Regions from separate parts of the Homo sapiens genome. Here region 2 is linked to region 1. Evidence: fine-mapped expression QTL. A gene starts in region 1. The other region holds a variant in brackets. All regions are shown on one strand. Distances are between the middles of the regions.

Region 1 (2,912 bases):
ATGCTTATTTCAAGGACTATTGGTAGTTTTCCACAAGTTGATGCAGCATCAGGCATTAAAATGCTCCCCAGATGCTGAGCATTTAGCAATAACACCATTCTCCACCAAAGAGGCTTGTGTTCCCAAAATTACAGCTCTTGGTTCTTTTTGAGAGCAGTTTTCTGGGGGCATAAACTGCCCCCTGGTATGGCTACTGCACAGACCATATTCCCCTTTAATCACGTGCCTTGGTGCAGGGTACGCATCTACTAACCACTTTCCCCTTGTGGAAATGTTCTCCCAGGGGAGTCATTCTCCTGCCCAGCCTCAGAGAGAGCCTTGATCTCAGCCGCTCTGACAGCTTCAGTCACTTTACATTTCAGGAAACTGAATATAGGTTCTAATCTCTTTGCTCTCTAAAAGCTTCTGGGGTCCTAATGCAAATTTTATCACCCCTAGTTTAACACACTGTAAGCCCACATCAATAATTTTCAAACACAAGCACACAAATAATTTTTATCTTACCAAACACCCTCCCAAGCTTCTTGGCAATTGCCAGGTCAGAAGCTAAGGACACGTTTACAGATTTTTGCTAAATATTCCTATTACTCCTTTCCAAATTACTTTCCAAACAGTGTATCCATTTAGTTACTAGCTATAAACAAAGGTACAGTCAGTCCTCACTTAAGGTTGTCAATATGTTCTTGCAATCTGAAAGTAAGTAACACCAATTTTACCACAAGCAAATTAATATTCCTATGGTTTATTTCTAGTCACAAACACATCAAAATTCTAAATAAAAACCAAAGGCCGGGCGCGGTGGCTCATGACTGTTATCCCAGCACTTTGGGAGGCCGAGGCGAGTGGATCATAAGGTCAGGAGTTCAAGACCAGCCTGACCAACATGGTGAAACCCCGTCTCTACTAAAAATACAAAAATTAGCCGGGCATGGTGGCGCATGCCTGTAGTCCCAGCTACTCAGGAGGCTGAAGCAGGAGAAACACTAGAACCTGGGAGGCAGAGGTTGCAGTGAGCCAAGATTGCACCACTGCACTCCAGCCTGGGCAACAGAGTGAGACTCCGTCTCAAAAAAAAAAAACACTTCTGATATTAACCACTGAAATAAATATGAGCTATACATACATTTAAGAAAGATAAATAAAAGCAAGTAAGATAACTTACTCAATAATAACAGTTCTCTAGGTTGCCGGAGTCTCCAGTCTCCGGTTGCTGTAGCTCATTCCAGCAGCTCAGGGCTTAAAGTAAGAACCAGCCCTGAACAGGACACTGTCACATCGCAGGGCACACTCACACACACCCCACACTCACACCAGGACCATGTAGACATGCCGGTGAACTGAACATGCACCTCTTTGAGGGGTGGGAGAAAACCAGAGCATCCAGAGCAAAACCCCTGTGGACGTGGGGAGAGCATGCAAACCACACAGACAGTGGCCCTGGCAGAGAATCAATTTTTTTCTCATCATTAAAAAAAAAAAAAAAAAGTTGAATGAAATGACATTATCTGAGGAACTGTTCTCGTTGTTGTGCTACAGAAACAATTGTTTTTGTTTTTAGTAACTATCATATGGCACCTCAAGCTGTGAGTTTCTTTGACTGCTAGCTAGGGTCAACTTTTTCTCCTGTTTTTGTCATCTTTCTTTTTTCTCTTTCTTTCTTTCTTTCTTTCTTTCTTTCTTTCTTTCTTTCTTTCTTTCTTTCTTTCTTTCCTTCCTTCCTTTCTTCCTTCCTTCCTTCCTTTCTTTCTTTTTCTTCTTTCTTCTTGCTTTTTTTTTTCCTTTTTGTTGAGATGGGGTCTTATCTGTCACCCAACCTGGGGTATAGTGGCATGATCACGGCTCACTGCAGCCTCGACCTCCCAGGCTCAATCGATCCTCCTGAGAGCTGGGACTACAGGGATGTGTCACCACTTTCTTTTTGAGTGAATTGAATTGTTCATTCATATCTGATTTACTGAGGGTTCTGAATCACAAGCCACAAAAACCAACTCTGGCTAATTTAGCAGAAAAGGAACTTATTAAGGCTCCCAGAATCTCCAGGAGGACAAGGGCACCAGGCTTAGGGCTTATACAGCCAGGAAAAATGTCCAAAGTCCAGCCTAGGGCAGGCTCCTGGAACTCGTCACTGGACTCTGACACTGCCAGGTGCCCACCATGACACCATACTGTGCGCAAACCCTGCTGTGGGAATTGCTGTCTTTGACAGCAACACGCTGCTGCAGTGACAGCTGTCCCTGCCACTGCCCTCACAGAACAGATTCTGCCAGGCTCCCCTCTGCACATGACCAGCCTCTAATTCAAAATCATGCAGGTGTACAATTGACAGATACTGGCCATGGATCTGTGCCCTTGCTGCAAGTGCAGCTGGGAAAAGACCTCATATTCTGCAGAAGGAAGGTTCTGCCCCTTGAGGTTACAGATTCTGCAAACACAGGAACAGCGTTTAAAAAGTAGCTGGCTGTGTGAATTTCCCTTTGCTGCTATACCAAATTACCACAAACTTAGTGGCTTCAAACAACATAAATTTATTATCTTACAGTTCTTCCATAAGTAAGAAGTCTGACACAAAAACTCACTGCATTAAAATCAAGGTGTTGGCAGGGCTCTTTTCCTTTTGGGATGCTCTAGAGGAAATTTCAATTCCTTGCTGTTTGCAACATTTAGAAGCTGCCCACATTCCTTGGCTCATGACCCCTTCCCCATATTCAAAGCCAGCAATAGTGATCAAGTCTTTCTCACACTGCATCACTGTTGCCATCCTCTGCCTCCTTCATCTACTTTCAAGGACCCTTGTGATTATATTGGGCCCACCTGTGTAATCCAGGATACTCTCCCTGATATGGTTTGCCTCTGTGTCCCCACTCAAATCTCGTTTTGATTTGTAATCCGCACAGGTCGAGGGAGGGAGACCG
Region 2 (2,912 bases), 120 kb before region 1:
GGGCCGCTGTCGCCGGCGTACACGGGGCAGGTGCCTTACAACTACAACCAGCTGGAAGGCAGATTCAAGCAGCTGCAAGGTAAGCCCCCTCCCAAAGGCCGGGCCTGTCCTGGGTGCCAACGGGGGTTCTTGGAGGCTTTATTTGTGACCCTAATGAAGACGGGCGGCTTCACAGCTCGGCCCCAGACCCTGTGGTTGGCTGCGGGCACCCCATTCACGACTTAGGGAAGGCAGTTGCTCATACTCCACTCCAGAAGAGCTACCATTTGGAGTCCCTGTCTCTCCAGCACCTTTTTGGCTTTCTAGGTTGTCAGATAACTGCTGCACACACATTTTCTTTACTTTTAGCTAACTTTACCTCCTAGTAGATCAGTGCTCATAGACTTATTAGTATGCAGGTATTTGATTCCGGGTCGCCTCTGGCTCCCAGCCCCCAGCCTCTTACCTCTGGGAAGCTTTAAAGGTGTAAAGTGCCGTGCTCAGACCCAGTCCTGTAGAACAATAGCAAAGGGGAGGAGGGAGGGGTCTTTTTGTTCCTAAGCCTTTGGTAAATTACAGTTTTTTATTCAGAAGCTTAATTTTAATTTTTCTGATGTGTTGGGAAGAGCCTTCCCATCTATTTAGTGGGCTATATAATTTCTAATGAAAGCCGGTTATTGTCATTTCAACCCTATGGGTTGGATTAGTTGGATCAATTACAGGTTTCTTGGAGTCTTTTTAAGGCTCAGACAATTGAATGAGTCCAATATTTTACTGAACATATTTTTAGGGAGAGCAGAAGCCTGTGTGTGCACCAGTGTGCTGTTTTCCCTGCGGCCCCTGCACCCCTCAGCTGTCCCTGCCCAGCCAGCAGGCCCTGGCCAGCAGTGTCTCAGAGCTTATACATGAAAAAAGGTTCCTAACTGAAAACAGAACTCCTTCCGTTTGGAAGCCCCTGGAGTCAGTAGTAGGCTGGGAATGGCTCTAGCACTGTAAAAAAGTAGTATTCGAGGACTGTGTGTTTCTTATTTTAACCTCCTCAGTGCTGCAAATGTGGTTCCTGTGAGGAGGAGGAAGGAAGGAAGCCGCTCAGCCCTAGAATGTTTTTCATTGGGAAGAGGGGGGAGGATGTCTTTCATTCATTGGTTTATTTGTCTTGTGAAATAGTTGACAGTAATGACACTTCTCTGGAAAACGAGGCAGAACAGGACGTGATTTTAAACATTTGCTGGGCTGTGCCACATTCCTCTGGCAGTTAGCTCAGAGGAAGCTCCCTTCGCTCTGGGGAACGGTTCTGTGTCTCTTTGGTTCATTTCTCTTGAGCTCTTCGGCAGTCAAATTTGCTTTTTTGAAAACTTAAGCTGGGGGCGCTTGCAAGTAGTAAATAGAGGAGTTGGGGTGGGGGGGGGCGTTCATTATCTAGGTTTGTTAGGGGCCTCACGGTTTTCGGGTCGGAGAATCCACTGCGTGCTCCTCCTCTTCCCCTGGCCCGGACTCCCAGCTTCATTGTGTCATCCCGCCTGGGGGAAAGCACCCACCGGGATCGTCAGCCCACTCCACCGCCAGCCTAGCCTGGAAGTCTCAGAAAAAAAGCAAAACTGGGAGAAAATAGAAGGTGTGAGGGAGGAGTGCACCCCTAGGCCCACCCATAACAAAAGGCTGTTATT[C/G]CGAAAGGGCTGAGGAAGGTTTTAAAACTGCTCGCCGAGAAGGGTGGAGCCTACACACAGGAAATGTCTTAACTGTCCTCTCTGGACAACGTAAAGTTTAAATTTAAAAAAAATCATGTGCCCCTGATATTTTACCTCATACGCTGTTTCTCAAGGAAATCCCTTCGAAAGGGGTAAGCTTCGTGTTTTGTGTGGTAGCTTTAAAAATAATTTTTTTTAGTGTGACCCTTGTCTCCTAATTTAGCCCCAGTGACTTTCTTATTTTTAAATATTGTGGTTTAGGAGTTGCACAAGTTTAGTGTTGGTATTTCTGTAGCAGAAAACCACCCATGTTGAGGAATTGAGAAAGGGTGAATTAACTTTCAAGTATGGTGGACCTCAGGAGAATTACACACATTTGTCAGCATCCTTCAGAACAAATGAACCGATTGCATTTTAAACAATCCTAGGAGAATTTTGATTAAACACACACACACAAAACCTTTCTTTAATTCCCATCCCTGGTTTTGTGTTTTGTTTGGTATTTGTAGTTCTGATTATCACATATTTTTGATAACATATAATTTCTATCTGCTGATTTAATTTTGTACATTCCTGCAAGGGTGCCTTTTTTTACTCTTCTGAGTATAATCTTTCCTAGCACATAATCTCTGAATATTGGCAAAATGCTCCTCTGAAACTGTATTGGGTTTTTTGTTTTCGTTTTAAGAGACAGAGTCTCACGCTGTTGCCCAGGCTCTAGTGCAGTGGCACAATCACGACTCAACAGCAGCCTTGAAGTCCTGGCTCAAGCCATCCTCCCACCTCAGCCTCCCAAGTAGCTGGGACTATACCATGTCTGGCTAATTTTTAAATTTTTTGTAGAGACAGAGTCTCACCATGTTGCTCAGGCTGGTGTTGAACTCCTGGCCTCAAATGATCCTCCCGCCTTCACTTCCCAAAGTGTTGGGATCACAGATGTGAGCTACCTTGCCAGTCCTGTACTGGGTTTAATGCCTCTGATATGAACTTATTTATGTATTGTCTGTGCCTGATAGTGCTATGATTTTTCTGGAGTTGTTTCTGCATTTTGGCTGGTTTCAAGTTACTTTCCACACTGGGTCCTAAAAATTTCAGGAGGTGTGCCATAGAATGAGATTTGGAGTTCTGGCTAAGGAGAATATAATTTTAAAATGAGTCTGGTCTATTTAGATAAAATGGTTTATAGCGATTTATAGTTTATAAATTTATAGAGATATTATAAATTTATAGTTTAAATATAGTTAT

Direction of the effects. Positions count from the first base shown, and alleles are read on the strand shown. Sizes are in standard deviations (SD) of each study's normalised expression.
For the expression in whole blood of the gene that starts at base 1,384 in region 1, C is the low allele of the variant in region 2 and G is the other (moderate effect, 0.42 SD a copy in GTEx).

The links. PIP is the estimated chance that this variant, and not a neighbour inherited with it, causes the effect.
Region 2: its variant is fine-mapped to the expression of SPTBN1-AS2 in whole blood (GTEx, PIP above 0.99).

The regions. Positions count from the first base shown.
Region 1 is chr2:54,678,662-54,681,573 of GRCh38, forward strand. It overlaps SPTBN1-AS2 (SPTBN1 antisense RNA 2), which reads right to left and starts at 1,384. Exons shown (of 3, transcript NR_186176.1): 1 at 1,163-1,384. It overlaps LOC105374653 (a long non-coding RNA gene), which reads left to right. Exons shown (of 3, transcript XR_940104.2): 2 at 2,895-2,912.
Region 2 is chr2:54,558,809-54,561,720 of GRCh38, forward strand. All of the region lies in intron 2 of SPTBN1 (spectrin beta, non-erythrocytic 1), which reads left to right. Among named protein-coding and RNA genes, the nearest start is that of SPTBN1-AS1, 1.6 kb to the left of the region's middle. RefSeq lists an enhancer at 1,436-1,605. The variant C/G (reference allele first, on the strand shown) is at 1,647.